Regions from separate parts of the Homo sapiens genome. Here region 2 is linked to region 1. Evidence: fine-mapped expression QTL. A gene starts in region 1. The other region holds a variant in brackets. All regions are shown on one strand. Distances are from middle to middle.

What was found. PIP is the estimated chance that this variant, and not a neighbour inherited with it, causes the effect. A credible set is the group of variants that fine-mapping cannot tell apart.
Region 2: its variant is the best candidate, but not a certain one, in a credible set for the expression of PRRX2 in fibroblasts (GTEx, PIP 0.51).

The regions. Positions count from the first base shown.
Region 1 is chr9:129,659,743-129,670,255 of GRCh38, reverse strand. It overlaps PRRX2 (paired related homeobox 2), which reads right to left and starts at 4,609. Exons shown (of 4, transcript NM_016307.4): 1 at 4,130-4,609. The coding sequence starts at 4,388. RefSeq lists enhancers at 97-596, 597-1,098.
Region 2 is chr9:129,692,010-129,702,522 of GRCh38, reverse strand. The region is part of intron 1 of PRRX2 (paired related homeobox 2); the gene reads right to left. Among named protein-coding and RNA genes, the nearest start is that of PRRX2-AS1, 21 kb to the left of the region's middle. The variant T/A (reference allele first, on the strand shown) is at 5,517.

The sequences.
Region 1 (10,513 bases):
GAACAACCCACGTGTCTGTAGATGGGTGAACGGATACAATGTGGTCCATCCGTACAGTGGAATGTGATTCGGCCTTCAGAAGGAAGGAGACTCTGACGCATGCTACACGGGTGAGCCCTGTAGACGTCACATTAAGTGAAATAAGACGGTCACAGAACGGCAAATACTGTAGGATTCCACTTACATACGAGATCCCTAGGGTAGTCAAATCCACAGAGACAGGAAGCAGACTGCTGGGTGCCAGGGGCTGGGGGAGGGGGAATGCATGTTCAAGGGGGTGCGGTTTCAGTTTGGGAAGATGAGAAAGTTCTGGAGATGGATGGTGGTGGCGACTGCACGACAATGTGAACGGACTTAATGCCACCGGACAGCATTCTTGTAAATGGTGAAAATGGTCAATCTGATGTTAGGCATCTTTTATCGCAATAAAAAATAATTGAAGGTAGGTCTGCCAGTCTCTTAACTCAGTCTCTTAACTCAGGCCCTGAGCTGAGCCCTGGGGACCCCCACCACAAACCAGACCCACCCCTATGAACAGATGCACCGACAGCCCCTCGAGGGCTCCCACCTCACCCTGCCTTGCCCCGTGCCTTAGATGCAAGCACTTCATCTTCCGAAATCTCTGGAAAATGAATCCACGTGGGATCCCAAGGTTTCTCCTGCAGTGAATCCTGGGGTTTTCCAAAGCAGGTACCAGCCCTGAGCACTGGCCGCCCAGCCTTCCCTGGCCAGAGGCCTCACCCCTGCCTGGCTCTAGGGGCTTTGTTTATTTTCCCAGTGTGTCCACGTCCCCGTTTCCACTCTGCCCACAGGAGGGAATGCTTTAGAGAAAATCTCAGTTATTAATGTGGTTTCTTTTGTTGTAAGTCATTGCAAAGGCAGCAAACCAGGGTTTGTTTTCCTAACGTGCCTGGTGCAGCCCTCAGCGTTTGACTGGCGAGGAAGGAACCCGCGACCCTGGTTTGTTCTGAGTCACTGGCGAAGCCACGGTCTTCCCGGCCATTTCTGGAGGGAGCCTGGTCTTAGAAAGTCATTGGCAGTAGCGGGCTTTATCTACTGGTGGCTTTGTGCAAACAAAAATTTTTAAATTAAAAAAAGTTTGAGCCTGCTATCCCAGCAGATTGAAGACGTATTAATTCCTAACTCATTGGTGTCCCCCATTAACCCTTATTTTTCTTTCTTTCTTTCTTTTTTTTTTCTCCTGCCTCAGCCTCCCGAGTAGCTGGGATTATAGGCGTCTGTCACCACACCTGACTAATTTGTGTAGTTTTAGTAGAGATGCAGTTTCACTATCTTGGCCAGGCTGGTCTTGAACTCCTGACCTTGTGATCCAACTGCCTCAGCCTCCCAAAGTGCTGGGATTACAGGTGTGAGCCACTGCACCTGGCTAACCCTTATTTTTCTAATGGGGGCACTCCCTCTTTGGTGCCATCTCTTTCTTTTCTTTTCTTTCTTTCTTTTTTTTTTTTTTTTTTTTGAGATGGAGTCTCATTCTGTTGCCCAGGCTGGAGTGTGCAGTGGTGCAATCTTGGCTCACTGCAACCTCCGCCTCCCGGGTTCAAGGGATTCTCCTGTCTCAGCTTCTCCAGTAGCTGAGATTACAGGCATGCACCACCACACCCGGCTAATTTTGTATTTTTAGTAGAGATGGGGTTTCACCATGTTAGCCAGACTTGTCTCAAACTCCTGACCTCTAGTGATCCAACCACCTCAGCCTCCCAAAGCACTGGGGTTACAGGTGTGAGCCACCGCCCCCGGCCAGACCATCTTTCTTTGGACCTGAAAACAACTCCAAGAGCCACAGGAAAACCCACCTCCAAGCATGTCTGGATCCGTGGTGAGGGGACCGGGCTCCTGTATGTCCAGGACTGGAGGATGATGCCGCAACCCAAGACTCAGCCCACTGGCCTGGGGTCTGCAGTCCCGGCAAGCCCAGCAAGGTTTGGCTGCCCACTTTCAAAGGGTCGATGATGGGGAAAGAAGGATCCCATCTCCCCCACCTTTGGAGCCTTCAGGACTTGGGAGTCCACAGCAAGTGGCAGTGGTGGGGCCGCCTGACCCAGATGGATGAGTTGGAAACTGGCGCCTGCCCTGCAGTCCCCTCTCTCCACCTTCTGCCTGTAGACCCAGATCCGGGCCACACCCCGGGCGGAGCCCAGGGACTCTCCCTGCCAGGGCTCCATCGTCCTCAGGGCAGAGCTAGGCAGCTTCCAAGACGGACCAGCCCACGAGCGCCTCCTGGAGCCTGGCCCAGACCCCACCCCACCTGATCCCACACCCAGTGTGTCCCAAGCATGCCTGGGTACTCCCAGTGTGCCAATGCCCCTTCTTAGGAGAAGGCCTGGAGGCCTCATGGGCTCTCCAGGAGGGTGGCTAGCCCCAGGGAGCTGCTGGGGAGACCCACTGCACACCCAGCTGCCTGGAGGCTGCCAAGGGCCTTGTCTAGGCGCCCACATCCCCAGCTGACACTAGCTGTTCTGGGATCCCCGGGGAAACCCGCCACCAGAGACCTCCAACACCGTGTCCGGGAGAAGCACGGCCTTCCCTGGCTGTCCCCACAGCAGGGGTAGGTCAGAAATGGGCAGGCCGTCCCCTGGCCAGGACTGGAGTACGAGACACCCTGGCCCCCTTCCTTCCCTCCTCACCCCTCTCTCCTCTCCCTTCCTTCCTCTTCCTCTGTCTCTCCTCCCTCTCTCTCTCCTTTCCTTGCCTTCTCCTTTCCTTCTTTCCCTTCACCTTCAAGTTGTTCCTCCTTCTCTTCCCAACCCCTGGAGTCTCCCTTCATCAGGGTAAACCGGGACCTCTCCTCTGTCCTGGGGTTGGGGGACCGGCTCAGAGCCGCTGAGGTCCTCAAATGACCTTGGGCCGGCAGGGCATTCCCCCAGCACAAACCAGAGGGCACCTGCTTTCCTCCGGGCCAGAGTGGACATCTCCCTCCCCTTTTCTACTGAGGAGCTAAACCCCAACTCCTGGGAGGTCTGCTGGCTTCACACTCACCCCGGAGGGTGCAGCCAGTGGCCAGTCCACTGTGGCCAGTGAGTGGTGGCCGCTGCCATGAGGGAGCCAGTGGCTTCATCTCAGCCACAGGCTGGCAGAAGGTGCCCCGTGAAAGGCAGGCGTGTCGCAGGCGTCCTCGTGGACGCACATGGATTCAGACTAGGCTGCAGCCACCTCTGTTTTCCCTGCACCTCCTGTCTCTGAAAAGCCAAGGAACGCAGCCACCAGCCTGGGCACCCTGAGACCTGGAGGCTGGTGCCGGGAACAGGGTCCCCCGGGGCGGGTGGGAGGGCTGCTGGAGTCAGGCGGGCACACTTCAGGGGCCCAGAGCCCCCAGCAGGCCGGCCCATCCCCAGAGCTAGGGGACAGGGGCCTGGTTTCAGATCACCGGGCCCCCATCCTTAGTGTGTGCTGAGCCGCGAGGACTCCGGTCCTCCCCTCCCCCACTGAACCGTCCGGGGCTGGGGCCTTTGCTTTTTCTCCATCTTCTCCCCGTCCCTCCCCTTCTTACCAAGGGCTCAGGACCCTGCCATCCTGTGTCACTTTTTGAAAAAGGCCACTTGGGTGGGTTGTTTGTTTTTAAAGCCCCTTCCTGATGACCTTTGACCTCTGCCGGGGAAGAGAGGCCTGGCTGGGCCGTTCCACCGAGGCAGCTGCTCCCGGGGCAAACTGGAGGGTGGGGGGGGGTGGGCAGGCACCCTCGCCCCCCAAAGAGCCCAACTTAAGACCGAGGAGGAGCTGGGGCGGCGCTAGCTCGTGCGGGAGGGGGCGGGTTTGAAACCCCAACGTGCAGCTCAGCGGCTTTGCCCGACTCAGGTCTCTGTTTCCCCAGTTGTAACCCGGCAGCAGCCACACCCACTTCCCAGGCTGTTCGGGAGCCGAATACTGGGGAGCGAAGGCAGCGCACTTCCCCGTGGGGACGCACCCCAAGACCCGAAGAGGGTCCCCCTCCCCCAGCCCAGAGTGCTGGTCAACCGCCGTCCACCGTCACTTACACGCGCCCCCAGAAGTCCTGCCGCCGACCACGCGCCCTGCATCTTCGCCCGCCCCGCGCCGGCTCCCCGGACCCCGCGCCCCGGCCCCGGCCCCGGCCCCGGCCCCGCCACCCCCGTCCCTGGCCGGCCGTACTCACCATCCTGCGGCGCCGCCTCGCTGCCGCTGCTGCCCCCGGACGGCTCCCGTGCTGCGCCCTCCCGCGCCTCGGCCCTGGCCCCGGGGCGCGCCGCCAGCCGCCCGGCCGCCGCCACCTCTTCCAGGTCCAGGAGGTGGCTCACCGAGAAGTTCTTGCGCGCCTGGGCGCAGTCGCCGGGCCCCAGCGCGGGTGGAGGCGGCGGCGGCCCCGGGCCCAGCGCCGGCTTGTCCAGGGCGAAGGCGGCGGCCGCGCTGTCCATGCCCGCGAGCGGCCCCGGGGGGGCCGGCGGGGGTCTCGGGCTCGGGTCCCAGGAAGGGTCGCGGGCGCGGGTCGGAGCGAGAGCCCCGGCCGCCCCGCGCTCTGCCCAGCTCCCGCCGCCTCCTAGCCTCGCGGCCCGCCCGGCGCTGACGTCGGGGAAACAAACTTTCCGCCCTCCCCTTCTCAGCCACGGCCGCTCGCTCCGGAGCCGCTGGTGCACGCGCTGCGCCGGCCACACGCCCCTTCTTGAAGCAAACCTCGCCCCCCGTCCTCTCCTCCGCCCTCTCCTCCCCGCGCGCCTCGCCCGCCCCCACCCCGGCTGCTGGCGCTGGGGGCGGGGAAGGGGTGTCCTCCCTTCACCCTCCCCACCCACTTTTTAGGGAGTGGGAGGTTCCGTGTTTTGTCGTTTTCCATCCCCCAAGTATCTGGGAGGTGATGGCAGAGGGATTCCCCCCTTCCCTTTACAATCGCCTCCGCAGGTGGAGGGGGCGGCCCAGAGACGAAGGCGACGAGCCCCCCACTCCCAGCTCCAGCCTCACTCGCCTCAGCGCCCCCAACAACGGCCCCGCCCGCCCGCGCTGGCCGACAGAGCTCTGTGCACACCACCCGCCCCAAGGCTGTCTCTCCCAGCAGGCAGCGCATCCTCAGGCTCCTGGGGTGTACGCGACCCCCCACCCCGCCTCTCCCCCGCTGCTCCCTGCCAGGTCCCCCACACACACCCACACACCCGGTGCCCACCCCCCAGGAGGCCCCAGGCCCTTCCCCAAGGAAAACCAAGCGGAGAGGCAGGCGCTTCGTTGCAGAATTCCTGGCGCACACACAGAGGACAGCCAGCCTGAGACGGGTGACAGGAAAGAGAGAGGCAGACTTAGGTGTCCGCTCTTGTTTCAGTTTTGTTTTTCAATGAAAGCACAGAAAAGATGTGCGGAGTGAGCAGACCTGAGACCCTAAGCCCCCCGGATGCCACTGCTCTTTCTCCAGGACAGCCGCTCACCGGCCCGTCCCTCTGTCGCCCTGCCCTCACTACGAGGCATAAAGTCACATCAGCCAAAGTCGCCTACCGGAGGAAGCCTTCAGCACATCCTTTCCCTGTTCCCATATGGAAAACCGGCCCGCACACATCCCTGAAAGCCTGCGGACCATTATTTTTATTTATTATTTATTATTATTATTTATTTTTATTTTTTTGAGACAAGAGTCTGGCTCTGTCGCCCAGGCTGGAGTGCAGTGTCGTGATCTCGGCTCGCTGCAACCTCCGCCTCCTGACTTCAAGCGCTTCTCCTGCCTCAGCCTCTCGAGTAGCTGGGATTACAGGTGTGCATCACCATGCCCGGGTAATTTTTGTATTTTTAGTAGAGGAGGGGTTTCACCATGTTGGCCAGTCTGGTTTCCAGCGTCTGACCTCAGGTGATCCACCTGCCTCGGCCTCCCACAGTGCTGGGATTACAGGCGTGAGCCACCGCACCCAGCCGGGAACACTATTTTTAAGGAAAGCCTAGCAATACATTATAATACATTAATCCTCACAGCGTGTGTTGTTTGTGTCCGCCCCCACCCCCTCCCGCGCTGGAAAGGAATCGACTTCAAAATGAGGCCGAGTAGGCCGGGCACAGTGGCTCACGCCTGTAATCCCAGCACTGTGGAAGGCTGAGGTGGGTGGATCACCTGAGGTCAGGAGTTCGAGACCAGCCTGGCTAACATGGTGAAACCCTGTCTCTACTAAAAATAATAATAATAAAAAAAATTAGCTGGGCATGGTGGCAGGCGCCTGTAATCCCAGCTACTGGGGAGGTTGAGGCAGGAGAATAGCTGGAACCTGGGAGGCGGAGGTTGCAGTGAGCCGAAATCACGCCATTGCACTCCAGCCTGGGCAACAAGAGTGAAACTCCATCTCAAAAAATATATATAAATTAAATTAAATAAGAAATAATAATTTAAAAAATGAGGCCGAGTGTCCCTGAAGTGTCTTTAGCCACAGCAATCCGTGCAGGTGCACACATGGGTAGGGAGGGTTTGGAGATGACGGGGTTCTCCGTCCTTGGACCTCTGCTCCAAGGAGTGTCCAGCAAGAAAGGCCAGCAAAGAGGCGCCAGTCTCCCTCATCCTAGGCGGCTGGGAGGAGCCCAGTCTGGGCACCAGGGCATACCCAGTGCTGCCCACAGTGTGTGTGGCTGAACCACTTTCTGAGGAACCGAGCAGGGTAGGGCCACTACTGGGCTCAGGATGTCTGGGAGGACCCTGCCCCTGCACCCAGCAAAACCCTCAGAGTGGAGGGGTCTTACCCAGGAAAAGCACAGCCCACTGAGTAGAGGCTTCATCCCAGAGGCAGAACAGTTTTGTGTTGGAGACAGGGTTCCAGCCCCAGCTATGCCCCTACTGCCATGTGGCCTCAAATTCAGCACCTTGGCCGGGCGTGGTGGCTCACGTCTGTAAGCCCAGCACTTTGGGAGGCCGAGGTAGGTGGATCACCTGAGGTCAGGAATTTGAGACCAGCCTGGCCAACATGGCAAAACCCCATCTCTACTAAAAATACAAAAATTACCTGGGCATGGTGGCATGCACTTGTAATCCCAGCTACTCGGGAGGCTGAGGCAGGAGAATCGCTTGAACCTGGGAGGAGGTTTCAGTGAGCCGAGATCGCGCCACTGTGCTCCAGCCTGGGCAACAGGAGCAAAATTCCATCTCAAAAAAAAAATCAGCACCTCCCCTCTCCAAGCCCCAGCTCCCTGACAGTGGAAGGCGCCTAATGAAGAGCCTGTCTCCTGGGCACAATGGGGACTCCATAGTAGGTGAACTTCTGGGCCCATGGCCTGGAACACACAGAGGGTACTGTTGACATTGGCCTGTGCAGTCAAAGGGCCTGAGGGATCATCTAGATCATTCCCTTGGAAGACAGATGGGAAAACTGAGGCCAAAAAAAGGTGAAAGCTCTTCTGGAGCTGGGAGAACCATGGAAATTGTTTGGTTTAAGCCCTTTTGTTTTACAGATCAGCAATGCGAGGCCCAGAGCTGGGAAGCGCAGTGTTCCGATCTCTCGGCATGGCCAGTGGCCACAGTGGCTTCTTCCACTCACTCCTGCAATTACTCATCCTACACATGTTGAGAGGTAACTCCATCTCTGTAGCATGATGGCTGTCTGGCACCAGCCTCCTGGGTGCAGATCAAGACCTTGCCTGAGCTTTGAGCAATCTATTTAGCCTCTTTCTCTTGGGGGCCTTAAATGTAAAATGAGCTGACTGGGTGTGGTGGCTCAGGCCTGTAATCCCAGCACTTTGGGAGGCTGAGGTAGGAGGATCTTTTGAGCCCAGAAGTACAAGACCAGCCTGGGCAACATAGTGAGACCTCATCTCTAGAAAAAAAAAGTAGCTGGTGTGGCAATGCATGCCTATAGTCCCCAGCTACTTGGAGGCTGAGATCGGAGGATTGCTTGAGCCTGGGAGGTTGAGCTACAGTGAGCTGTGATGGCACCGCTGCACTCCAGCCTGGGCAGCAGAGTGAGACCCTATCTCTCTTTTTTTTTTAATTTAATTTTATTTATTTATTTATTTATTTTTAGTATTTATTGATCATTCTTGGGTGTTTCTCGCAGGGGGGGATTTGGCAGGGTCATAGGACAATAGTGGAGGGAAGGTCAGCAGATAAAGAGACCCTATCTCAAAAAAAAAAAAAAAAAGAAAGAAAGAAAAAGAAAAAGAAAATGAGCTGTTAGGAGGATTAAATAAACCAATGTATAAATAAAGGACACCTGGTACCTAGTGAGCATTTAATACATGTTAACAATGATTATTTTTTAAATATCTGGCTGGGCGCAGTGGCTCATGCCTGTAATCCCAGCACTTTGGGAGGCTGAGGCGGGCAGATCACCTGAGGTCAGGAGTTTGAGACCAGCCTGGCCAACATGGTGAAACCCCATCTCTACTAAAAATACAAAAAATTAGCTGGGTGTGGTGGCGGGCACCTGTAATCCCAGCTACCCAGGAGGCTGAGGCAGGAGAATTGCTTGAACCCGGGAGGCAGAGGTTGCAGTGATCCAAGATCTCGCCATTGCACTGCAGCCTGGGCAACAAGAGTGAAACTCTGTCTCAAAAAATAAATAAATACATAAATACATAAAACAAATAAAATAAACATATGTTCTGAGAAGTAGACAGGGCAAGGATGGTGAACTCGGACTGTGCAGCTGAGGGACATGGGTATGAATCTACCCACTGCCATTTACTGGCTGCGTGGCCTTGAATATGTCACTTGCCCATCCTCCCTGAGTCTGTCCCATCGTCTGTAAAATAGGAATAGTAGAGGAGCCAATCCAAAGGGTTCTTGTGGATTTACCATCATTATTGTTGCTGCCTATTCCCTTGCCCAGCCTGGGGATAAGGGCTGGGGTTGGGGCAGGGATGGAAGGGTGGGGCAAAGGGCATAGACTGCTGCACTGTGCAATAAGACAAGAAAGCAATAAGACAAGAAAAAGGGATGAACTAAAAATAATTCGAATATATCTTTGTAGCTTATCTCTATATATCTAGAGAGATGAAGAAAGTTCTATAATATACAGTCCTACATATAGTTTTATGTTTAGGATTGTATACTATAGTCCTATGTTATAAAAGTGGAAGTATGTTTACCTCCTGTTTTATAACCTGCTGAGCATGAGCGTCAGCTCTGATCCAGCCTGGGAATACACCCAAGGAAACTCCAGGGAATCCCAGGAGGGCAGAACTCAGGGACTCATCACCCCAAAGGGATATGGCTAAAAATAAATCATTTCATGATGATTTTGATAAATCTGAGAGGCTAACCCAGAAGAGGAAATGGAGGGCAAATAGGATTCCCATTCAGAACCTCTCAGATCAACTTGTGGTTACTGAGCCGGGCACTGCAGCCAGCCAGGGAGAAAGGGAAGGGAAAGAAAGAGGGCCCCTGCTCACCAGATGGGATTCGCGGAGAAGGAGCTGATTATTCACTGGTGGTTCCATTTGAGGCTAAGTTCTAGGTCTGACCTTCAGTGAAAACTCATATTTGCCCCAGTCTCAAAAGCTCACATGTTAAAAATGAAAAGGTAACTTTTCTTATTGCAAAAGTAATATGTTATGGTTGAGATTTTAGAAAGCATCATTAGAATTAAGAGAATAAAAATCACCTATAACCCATTCCTAAAAGGCCTTAACACACACACGAGGCGTTCAAGACTTTTTCCTTTTTTTTTTGAGATGGAGTTTTGCTCTTGTTGCCCAGGCTGGAGTGCAATGGCGTAATCTCGGCTCACCACAACCTCTGCCTCCCAGGTTCAAGTGATTCTCTTGCCTCAGCCTCCCGAGTAGCTGAGATTACGGGCATATACCACCATGCCCAGCTAATTTTTGTATTTTTTAGTAGAGATGGGGTTTCTCCATGTTGGTCAGGTTGGTCTTGAACTCCTGACCTCAGGTGATCCGCCCACCTCGTCTTCCCAAAGTGCTGGAATTACAGGTGTGAACCACTACGCCCGGCCACTATGGGCTTTCGTTAAGGCTCCTAAACTCTTTAGGCTTCAGTTTCCCCATTTGCTTTTTCCTTTCCTTTTCTTTCTTTCTTTCTTTGTTTTTTTTTTTTGTTTGTTTGTTTTTGTTTTTTTTGAACAGGGGGTCTCACTCTGTCTCTGTCATCCAGGCTGGAGTGCAATGGCACAATCTCGGCTTACTGCAACATCTGCCTCCCAGGTTCAAGCGATTCTCCTGCCACAGCCTCCGGAGTAGCTGAGATTACGGGCATACAGCACCACACCCAGCTAATTTTTGTACTTTTTAGTAGAGACGGCGTTTCTCCATGTTGGTCAGGCTGGTCTGGAACTCCTGACCTCAGGTGATCCGCCCACCTTGGCTTCCCAAAGTGCTGGGATTATAGGCGTGAGCCACCGCGCCTGGCCACACCGTTATTTTCTTAAGAATAAATACCTAGAATGGCCGGGCGCGGTGGCTCACGCCTGTAATCCCAGCACTTTGCGAGGCCGAGGCGGGCAGATCACAAGGTCAGGAGATCGAGACCATCCTGGCTAACACGGTGAAACCCCGTCTCTACTAAAAATACAAAAAAATTAGCCGGGCGTGGTGGCGGGCGCCTGTAGTCCCAGCTACTTGGGAGGCTGAGCCA
Region 2 (10,513 bases), 32 kb before region 1:
GTCGAACAGGCCACATTTCAAGGGCTCAATATCCACACATGGCCAGTGGCCGCCACATTGGACAGCACAGATAGGAAACATTTTCATCATCACAGAGAGTTCTAGAAAGTTTTTTTTTTTTTTTTGAGACGGAGTCTCGCTCTGTCGCCCAGGCTGGAGTGCAGTAGCGCGATCTCTGCTCATTGCAAGCTCCGCCTCCCGGGTTCACGCCATTCTCCTGCCTCAGCCTCCCGAGTAGCTGGGACTACAGGCGCCCACCACCATGCCCAGCTAATGCTTTTGTATTTTTAGTAGAGACAGGGTTTCACCGTGTTAGCCAGGATGTTCTCGATCTCCTGACCTCGTGATCCACCCGCCTCAGCCTCCCAAAGTGCTGGGATTACAGGTGTGAGCCACCGCGCCTGGCAGTCGTAGAAAGTTTTGAGACGGAGTTTCACTCTGTCGCCCAGGCTGGAGTGCAGTGGTGCGATCCTGGCTCAGGGCAGCCTCTGCCTCCCGGGTTCAAGCGATTCTCCTGCCTCAGCCTCCTGAGTAGCTGGCATTACAGGCACCCGGCATCAGGCCTGACTAATTTTTTTGTATTTTTAGTATGGATGGGGTTTCACCATGTTGGCCAGGCTGGTCTCCAACTCCTGACCTCAAGTGATCCGCCTGCCTTGGCCTCCTAAAGTGTGGGATTACAGGCGTGAGCCACTGCGCCTGGCCTAAGGACATTTGAAAGGAAAAAAATCTCCTACAAATCCCACGACAACAGCATATCTGTTTAATTCTTTGCATACTTTTTGTTGCATGTCCACATGTATCTAGCTATCACATGACTCCATTTACAGTGTGCATGAATATCATTTTCTGTTTTGGATGGGGCATGGATTAAGAGCCTAGGATTGTGATCAGACACACCCAGGGATGCTGCGTATGGTTGCACAGGCTGTGCACTGTACAACTTCAGGGGTGCCATTCCCACAGACTCCAGTGTGACTGGTGTCCCCTGCAGTTATGCAGTGGACAACCTGCCCAACCATATCCCGCTTTCCTGGAAATAGCTGCATTCTGGTTCTGGCTTTCCATGCCAGCTCTGTGAGCTCTGTGAGACTCAGTGTCCCCACTGTAAGTGGGAACAGCAACACCTAAAGTGCCTCGACAATACCTGGCACCCAGTTAGTGGTCAAGTAACATCAGCTATCGCGTTGGTGACTGCCATGACCTCACCATTTTATGAAGCGAAGTCAATGTGATGGTGCAGGTAGACTGCTTCCCGCTGTGAGCGACACACAGTGAACGATGGTCCCTCAAGCTCCATCCTAAACCCTCTGCTCTGTTTCCTATCTTCTTCCTCACGTTAGTGTGAGCGGCTGCATCACTTCCCCTAGTGGGGATGCCAAAACGGCCTCACAGCCCTTCCCCTCTTGTGGGATATTTAGGTCTCTTGCGATTTTCCTCTATTGTAAACACTGTGAAAAATGTCTCATTTCTTTGTCCTTCTGCTGGATTTCAAGACCCCAAATCCTTCACATAAGTTCTTCCAACAGCGCTCTCCTCTCCAGAAGGAACCTTTTTGCTACCAAGTTGGTCAGAACAGGCCAGCCCACAAAAGGTGGCGTACTGGCTAAGCACCGTGGCTCACGCCTGTAATCCCAGCACTTTGGGAGGCTGAGGCGGGTGGATCGCTTCAGGCCAGGAGTTTGGGACCAGCCTGGACAACATGGCAAAACCCCCACCTTTACAAAAAATTAAAACATTAGCCGGGCATGGTGGCACGCACCTGTAGTCCCAGCAACTCAGGAGGCTGAAGTGGGAGGATCACTTGAGCCCGGGAGATGAAGGTCACAGTGAGCCACAATTGTGCCACTGCACTCCAGCCTGGGTGACAGGTTCAGACCCTGTCTCAAAACAACAATAACGGCCAGGTGTGGCTCTGCAATCCCAGCACTTTGGGAGGCGGAGGCGGGCAGATCACTTGAAGGCAGGAGTTCAAGACCAGCCTGGCCACCATGGTGAAACCCCGTCACTACTAAAAATACAAAAATTAGCCGGGCTTGGTGGCATGTGCCTGTACTCCCAGCTACTCAGGAGCCTGAGGCAAGAGAATCGCTTGAACCTGGGAGGCGGAGAGCCGAGATTGCGCCACTGCACTCCAGCCTGGGCGACAGAGCGAGGCTTCATCTAAAAAAAAAAAAAAAGCCAACAACAACAACAAACCAAAAAAAAATACAGCACCCCACTGAGGAAGAGCTGGACCCTGGCGGCAGGCTGCCTAAGTTCAAATCCCAACTTCACTGCTGTGTGACCCTGAGGAAGTTACAACCTCTCTGTGCTTCAGTTATCCCATCCAGAAAATGGGGATAACAAGATCTTCCTCCCAGAGTTGTTGTGAAAATTAAATGAAAGAATATATATATAAGGTTCTTAAAGCAGTGCCTGGCACGTAGTAAGTGCTAAATCACGTTAGCCATTAGTATATTTATCTGGAGTTAGGTGCGTGTGCGTTCCCCTCCCACACTTGCTGTATATTGGCTGTGCAGCTTTGAGGCAATTTACTGAACCTCTCTAGACCTCGGTTTGTAACTGTCTGGTGGAGACTTGGGATGCTGAGAGGCAGAAGCAACCATGTGCCTGGCACGCTGAGGTCTCTCTCCTGAACAGCTGCTGTCGGTGCCTCAGAGACCAAGTTCTCTGCTCCCTGGGACACTTCCTCCCCAAAGCTTGCACTGACACACACAGAGCAGAGGCTGCCCTGAAGGTGCCCAAGGAAAGAATTCATCCTTCGTGGATGCTTCCCAGAAAGCTGGGCTGGACCATGTAGAAAGCCATGGCACAGTCACACACTGGATATTCTTTATTCCGGGCGGATGCATAGCAGGTCCTCAATAAATACTGAATGAATATGTAAGTGAATGAATGAATGGATTTTGGCTCCTGATGGGAACATAATCTCAATTCTCTGCTTGCCCAAACACCTGAAAATTTGTATGCACTATACACCATTACAAGCCTTCTCACTTCTGGACCCTCCTATCTGCAGAAACTAATATATTGATGGATATATGTATACACACACACACACACACACACACACACACACATATATATATTTTTTTTGAGACAGAGTCTTGCCCTGTTGCCCAGGCTGCAGTGCAATGGCGTGATCTCGGCTCACTGCAACTTCCACCTCCTGGGTTTAAGTGTTTCTCCCACCTCAGCCTCCCAAGCAACTGGGATTACAGGTGCGCACCACCACGCCCAGCTAATTTTGTGTGTATATATTTTAGACGAGGTTTCACCATGTTGGCCAGGCTGGTCTCGAACTCCTGACCTCAAGTGATCTGCCCACCTTGGCCTCCCAAAGTTCTGGGATTATGGGCGTGAGCCACTGCGCCCAGCCTATTGATGGATTTTTTTAATTGACAGGCCAGAGCATGGGCTAGGGAAATCACCTCCCACAGGGAAATGCTTCAGCCTGGCTTTGCTGGTGCTCATAGTCAGAGGAACAGGCACAGCGGCCTTCCTGTGGGGAAGGGCCTCCAGCATGCCCTGGGAGGGAAGGGACAGTCAGGCTATCCTGATGGCCCTCCAGCTGGGCCAGCATCCTCCCTCTACTTCCTAGAGTTTAGGAACGAACCACCTTGTTTCCTGAGCCTCCAGACACCAGGAAGATTTGATCCCAAGCCCAAGGTTTCATCTCTGGAGTCCAGCAGGCAGGGTGGGAATCCTACCTTCTCCACATCCCAGCTCTGTGACTTTGAGCCTGTGACCGCTCCTCTCTGGGCCTGTTTCCCTGTGAAGTGGGCCCATAGGGCCTCAGATGGGATGGTAGTGACGTGAGGTAGTGACGTGAGGGGGCGTCCACCCAGTACTGACAAATGGCCAAAGCCTTGGCTGCCCAGTCTGGGTTGTCTCAACCTCTGCCCACACGCGCCTAGCAGGGATTAGTCTCTGAGTTGATGTGCATGGCTGACACCCCCACCCTACCCAGCATCCCAGCTCCCCTTTTCCGGAACAAGGAAGGCAGGCGTGGCGGGAAAAACCCGCTCTTGCCACGTGTGTTTCACCAAACACCCTCCTCCCGATCATGGGGAAGGGCTGCACACCAGGGGGAACTCGGGGAACTGCTGAGTCCCAAGCCCTGGGCAAGCCCTCTTCTCTGCAGCCAGACTGGGTTGGCCTGGCCCAGCCCGGCCTGGCAGCACCACCGCCTGGTCTTACGCTTCCTTTTGGTGGAGAACCATGGAGACAGAGCCTAAGTGCCCCCGCCCCCCCCCCCCCCCGCCCCATCCAACCACCCATTTCTCCTAAGCTCCCCTGCTGGGAGCTCCCAGCTCCACTGCTCACTTTATAGGCCCTGCGAGGGGGCCCAGAGAGCTGAAGGGGCTGGTCCAGAAAGGCAGAGCACCCCGAAGCTGCCTGGGGACGGGAAGGCTCGGTGCTGACAGCAGCCAGGACCAGGGACCACCTTGTGGTTAAGACAGATTTGGTGCGGAGCTGGGACCGGCCTCAATGAAGCCCTTGTACTCACCCAGTGGGTGAAAAGCCCCCTTCCGAATCCCGGCGCTTAAAACCCTCCAACCTCCACGCTCCCCTCCCCCACCCACATTTTGGCGTTTCTCGCATGCCCCAAAGGCCTCATCTTAGGGGAAGCTCTGACTCAGAATTTTGAAAAATCTTACGCACAAACTTAGGAAAACAAACTTCGGGGGGCGGGGAAGCGTCCCCAGCCCTTTGTGGGGTGGAGACAGCGGGGGCGCTAGCAGGGGGGCAGGTTTCTGAGAAGCCATCTTTCCCTCCCCCGGGACAGGGCCGAGGGGCGAGGCGGACCCCACCCGTCTCGTGGGTGGCTTTCCCATCTGGACGGGGAGCTGGCTTGCTGGGCGGGGGTCTCCCCTCCGCACGCGCGGGTCTGGGGTCGGTCCGAAATCCAGGGGATGCCAGGGCCGGCGCGCCAGCCGCCGCCGCCCAGCCCGGCCATGTGCGCGCCAGCCAGTGCGTGCGAGCGCGCCGCGCTGGTGGCGGCCAGAGCGGCGCCGCGGCACATCTGGTTCCAGACGAGCCCCTGGCGCCTGCCTCGCCGCAGTCCCGCGGCCCAGACACACAGACGTTAATAGATCCCGCGCCCAGCCCCGCGCTGCCCGCGCCGCCGCCGCCCAGCTGCTCCGAGGGTGCGCGCCCCGGCCGGGCGGGAGGGGGCACGGCCTAGGGGAGGGGGAGCGGGACGCAGCGCTCCCCTGCAGCCCAGCCAGCTCCCTCCTCGCCTTCCTTCCAGCTCAGACACCTCCCTCTCCACTCCCGCTCTCCAGGCAGGTCCCGGGTGGGAGCCAGGACTGACTGCTCTTTCCTATCCTGGCACCGAGTGCAAGGGAATCCAACCCCCGATTAGTGACAAAGGCAGTTCCTACGTGTCCAGCTCCGGCCAAGGCCAAGGCTAAGGGCCAGGCCGGGCCGGGCGCCTATGGGCGTGTCTCCACACACGGTAACCCTATGAGGCAGGTACTGCTGCTACCGTCCCCGTTTAACAGTCGGGA[T/A]AACCGAGACTAGGGAGGGAGGTCAGTCGCCCAAGGTCACACAGCGAGAAAGCTGCAGAGCGGCCATTCAGCTGGTCTATCGGACTCTGGCCCCAGGGGGGTCCGCGCTGCACCCCCTCTTCAACTGCTAGCCCACACACCTGGAACTCAAAGTCACCTTCACCCGGGGCGCCCCTCCCTTGCCCTCCCTCTGTCAGGGACCCCCTCTGCACCTGCAACCTTGATCCCTTAGCGAGGGTCCTCCCACCCAAGCATCTGGGGAAAGTGAAGCTTTGTGGGGACTCTGCAGGAATTTGCCCAGCTCCTTTCCCTTGGCAAGGCGGCAAGACAGCTGCTTATTTGGAATCCACCCCTTATCAAACCGGGAACCGAGGGTAGCTTTGCTTTATAAAATGTATTTTTTAAAAATTATTATTACTATTATTTTTTTCGAGACAGGGTCTAACTCTGTGGCGCAGGCTGGAGTGCAGCGGCGCGATCTGGGCTCCGCTGCAGCCTTGAACTCTCAGGCTTAAGCGATCCTCCCACCTGAGCCTCTAGAGTAGCTGAAATTACAGGCGCCCACTACCACGCCTGGCCAATTTTTGTATTTTTTGTAGAGACGGGGTTTCACCATGTTGCCCAGGCTGGTGCCTAACCCCTGGGCTCAAGCGATCCATCCGCCTCAGCCTCCCAAAGTGCTGGGATTCCAGGCGTGAGCCACCGTGCCCAGCCAAGGTGCCCTGCTTTAGAAGTACCATTCTACTATTCAGGGGTATGTGGCTTGTTTTCGTTTTGAAAAGGGGGCTGTGAGCATTAGGACCCCCCACACTAGATTCCATGATAATACATCTGAGTCTTAGCCAGTTGGTGAGTGGAGGTGGGTTTTGTCTTCCTCCCTTTCTCTCCTTCTGTGACTCCCTACCCCACCTTTCTTTTTTTTTTCGTTTTCTTTCTTTTACTGTGGACTTTAGCTCCTATGGGCTAAGCATGTGTGCTTGCAAATTCCAAGTAATTTGTTGGCTCCAGATTAAACTTCAGCTTTCCGCCTTCTCAGAGGGGGCTTTATAAGGAAATGGGGCCACATCAAAGTGCCATGTTCACCCTTAAAATGGGAGAAGAGTGTTTTTTTCTGAGCTGCTTACATGACAGCAGAGGTTCTGTTTAGAACTTTCCCGTTAATGCTCTCTGAATTCACTTGTGGGGGCTTGTTAACTTGGGCTGTCAGAAATTCTGGATTTTAGAAAAAAAACTCACTTTTAAAAAGTTCCCCGCCTAAAGGTAGTGAGGCCCATAATGGCCTGGTGAATGTGCCTAAGCATCTGAAAGCAGCGGGAAAGTCCTTTTGACTTCCCAGCCAAGTCTCCTGTTAAAGGTTTGGGGTGGCGGGGGCCTGGAGGAAGAGCAGCGTGGGCCAGGAAAGGGAGGTGCCTGCCAGCTGGGGGCTCCCGGCCCGGCTCCCAGCTCTGTGCCAGGCTAAGACTGAGCCCTTCCCCAGCAGGCCTGAAAAGGGGGTAAACACAACAAGGCTGTGGGGTGTATAAAAACCAAACCAAAGAAGCACATTGGTCAAGTAAAGCCCAGAGCAAGAGACCGGGAATTTGGAGGGAAGCTGATTCTTCAAGCATCTGCCATTTCCGCAGCCTCTCTCTTTGAAAAGACAGTTTCCTCTGGGGCTAAAGACAGCTGGTGGCAATTTCAGGTCACAGAACTCTGTCCTCTTGCCTTTCCTTCTCCTCCATGGCCTCTCCTCTGTCCCCCTTAGCCAGAAACCTCTGGAGGGAGTGTTGATTACGGGCCACCTATCCACACTCACGGACTGTGGGGTGGAGAAGGGAATAATCCTCCTAGAACTTCTAGAATGACCCTGGATCTTCATGAGGCCCTGGCCTTGGCCAGGTCCAGCCACTTGCCTGTGGGGTGTTGGGGTTCTCCCTGGACTGCTAGGTGACCCCAAAAGATTAATCAGTGGGTACTGGGACCCTGCCCCCAGACCCCTCTGAGCCAGCCTGCAGCTCGCCCCATTCCTCCTCCATGGTGAGCCCTTTCATCTGGAAGCTGCAGGCAAGTGGGTCTTGGGGGGCTGATGAGAGGGGATGGTGGCTGAATCCCCCAGGCCAGAAGGCTGGCCCAGCCATGAAGCCTTCGTTGGACCACTAGGGTCATGGCACACATCATAGTGTTTATCACTATTCTGAATGGGGCTCCCTCCGCTGCCCCCCATGGACTCCCCTATGTGCCAGGTACTTTAAACACACACACACACAGAGCTTGGAGGAATCCTCACACCTGCAAACCCAGGAAGCAAGTATTAACAAGAGGAAGAAACAGGATCTGTGGGGTCAAGTGACTTCTCTAAGGCCACACAGCCAGTTGGTGGAAGAACTGGGACTCATCCACATCCTGATGCACCAGATTCCAGCACCCAAGCTTCCAACCCCTGAACCGCGCTGCCTCCCTGCCGAGCACGCATGAATCTCCCTTCACCTTCTCCCCAGGAGGCAGCCAGCACAGAATGTCAGAGTCAGAAGGGACTTCTGAAGGGCTGGACACGGTGGCTTATGCCCATAATCCCAGCACTGTGGGAGGCCGAGGCGGGCGGATCACTTGAGGTCAGGAGTTGGAGACTGGCCCAGCCAACATGGCAAAAACCCATCTCTACTAAAAATACACAAGTTAGCCGGGCATGGTGGCACACACCCATAGTCCCGGCTAGTCGGGAGGCTGAGAGAATGGCTTGAATCCAGGGAGGCAGGAGAATGGCTTGAATCCAGGAGGCAGAGGTTGCAGTGAGCCAGGATCAGGCCACCGCACTCCAGCCTGGGCCACAGAGGGAGACTGTCTTAGAAAATTAAAGGGGAGACGTGGGGTGTTTTTGAGCACACTCAGGCCGGGGCTGGCTCATGGTGTCATTTCCCTGCCACTCCTGATCGCCTGCTAGTAGCTGCTTAGAACCCTGTGTTGTGGAGGATTCGGAGGGTCTCTGGTGGATGAGCTTCGTCTGCCATGGGCTCAGGAAGAGCTTCAGAAAAACCCCAAGCAAGGACTCTGCCTTCACTCCCTGCTGGGGGCCCTTTCTACCTCCAAGGACACAGCAAACTATGTCACGTGTGGCATCGTCTTACCATCCCTTGTCCCTTGACACGCTCATTTTGGGAAGTTCCACATAGACCACAGAAAGACATTTGAAGAGAATGATGTTCAATTCTGCCTTTTAAAATAAACAAGCAGCAATGTGGCATTGCCAGGAGGCAAACCCTCGTCCCTCTTCCAAGGCCTTGGTGGTGGCAGGAAAAATTATCCAACCTCTCTGGACATATTTCCAATAGGGACAATATTCTTCCTCCTGCACATAAATACTGTATTAACCAGTAATGATGGCAAGGCGAGTTTTGCCCCAAAAGAACGATCTTTTTTTTTTTTTTTTTTGAGACAGAGTTTCGCTCTTGTCGCCCAGGCTGGATGGAGTGCAATAGCGTGATCTCAGCTCACTGCAACCTCTGCCTCCTGGGTTCAAGTGATTCTCCAGCCTCAGCCTCCCAAGTAGCTGGGATTACAGGCACCCACCACCATGCCCAGCTAATTTTTGTATTTTTAGTAGAGACGGGGTTTCGCCATGTTGGCCAGGCTTGTCTTGAACTCCTGACCTCAGGTGATCCGCCCGCCTTGGCCTCCCAAAGTGCTAAGATTACAGGTGTGAGCCACCGCACCCAGCTGAGAACAATCTATTTTTTTTAAAAGACTATCTACCATGAGAAAACTTCTTTAGCAGATTAAATTATAAACAACCTGATTTTAAAATGGACGGAAGCCCTGAGCAGACACCTCACCAAAAAGACAGACAGATGGCAAGTAAGCATATGAAAGATACACCGTATCTTGTATCACTGGGGAAATGCAAATTAAAACTACAGTGAGATACCACCACACGGCTATTAGAATGCCCAGAATCCAGAACACTGACAACCAAATGCTGGCGAAGATGTGGGGCAACAGGAACTCTCATCCACTGCTGGCGAGAATGCGAAATGGTACAGCCACTTTGGAAGACAGCTTGGCCGTTTCTTACAAAACTAAACATACTTTTACCGTACGATTTGGCCATCACACTCCTTGGTTCCTACCCAAATGAGGTGGAAACTTCTGTCCACAAAAAGGCCTGCCCAGGGATGTTTATAGCAGCTCTGTTCATAATTGCCAAAACTTAGAAGCAACTAACACGTCCTCCAGTAGGTGAATGGATAAACTGTGCTACATCCAGACAAAGGAATATTACTCAGCACTGAAAAAAGGAGCTATCGAACCATGAAAAAATGTGGAAGAAACTTACATGGATATTTACTAAGTGAAAGAAGCCAACCTCAAGAGGCTACATACTGTATGATTCCAACCACATGACGTTCTGAAAAAGGCAAATCTTTGGAGATAGTAAAAGGGTCAGTGGTTGCAGGGCTGCAGGAGGGACGGATGAAGAGGCAGAACCCGGGGGACTGTTAGGGCAGTGAAGCCACTCTGGGTGATACTGCAGTGGTGGATCCGTGTCATTATGCATTTCTCTAACCCCACAGAATGAACAACACCAAGAGGGAACCCCAATGTACACTATGGACTTTGAGTGATGATGGTATGTCACTGTAGGCTCACTGACTGTAACGAATGTAACACTCTGGTGGGGGATGGTGGGGGTGGAGGTGGGGACAGGAGATAGATGGGGAATCTCTGCACTTTCCACTCAACTTTGCTGTGAATCTAAAACTGCTCTAAAAAAATAAAGTCTAGGCCAGGCGTGGTGGCTCATGCCTGTAATCCCAGCACTTTGGGAGGCAGAGGAGAGTAGATCACTTTAGGTCAGGAGTTCGAGACCAGCCTGGTCAACACAGCAAAACCTTATCACTTCTAAAAAAAAATACAAAAACTAGCCAGGCGTGGTGGTGTGTACCTGTATAGTCCCAGCTACTTGGGAGGCTGAGGTGGGAGAATCGCTTGAACCCAGGAGGTGGAGATTGCAGTGAGCCGAG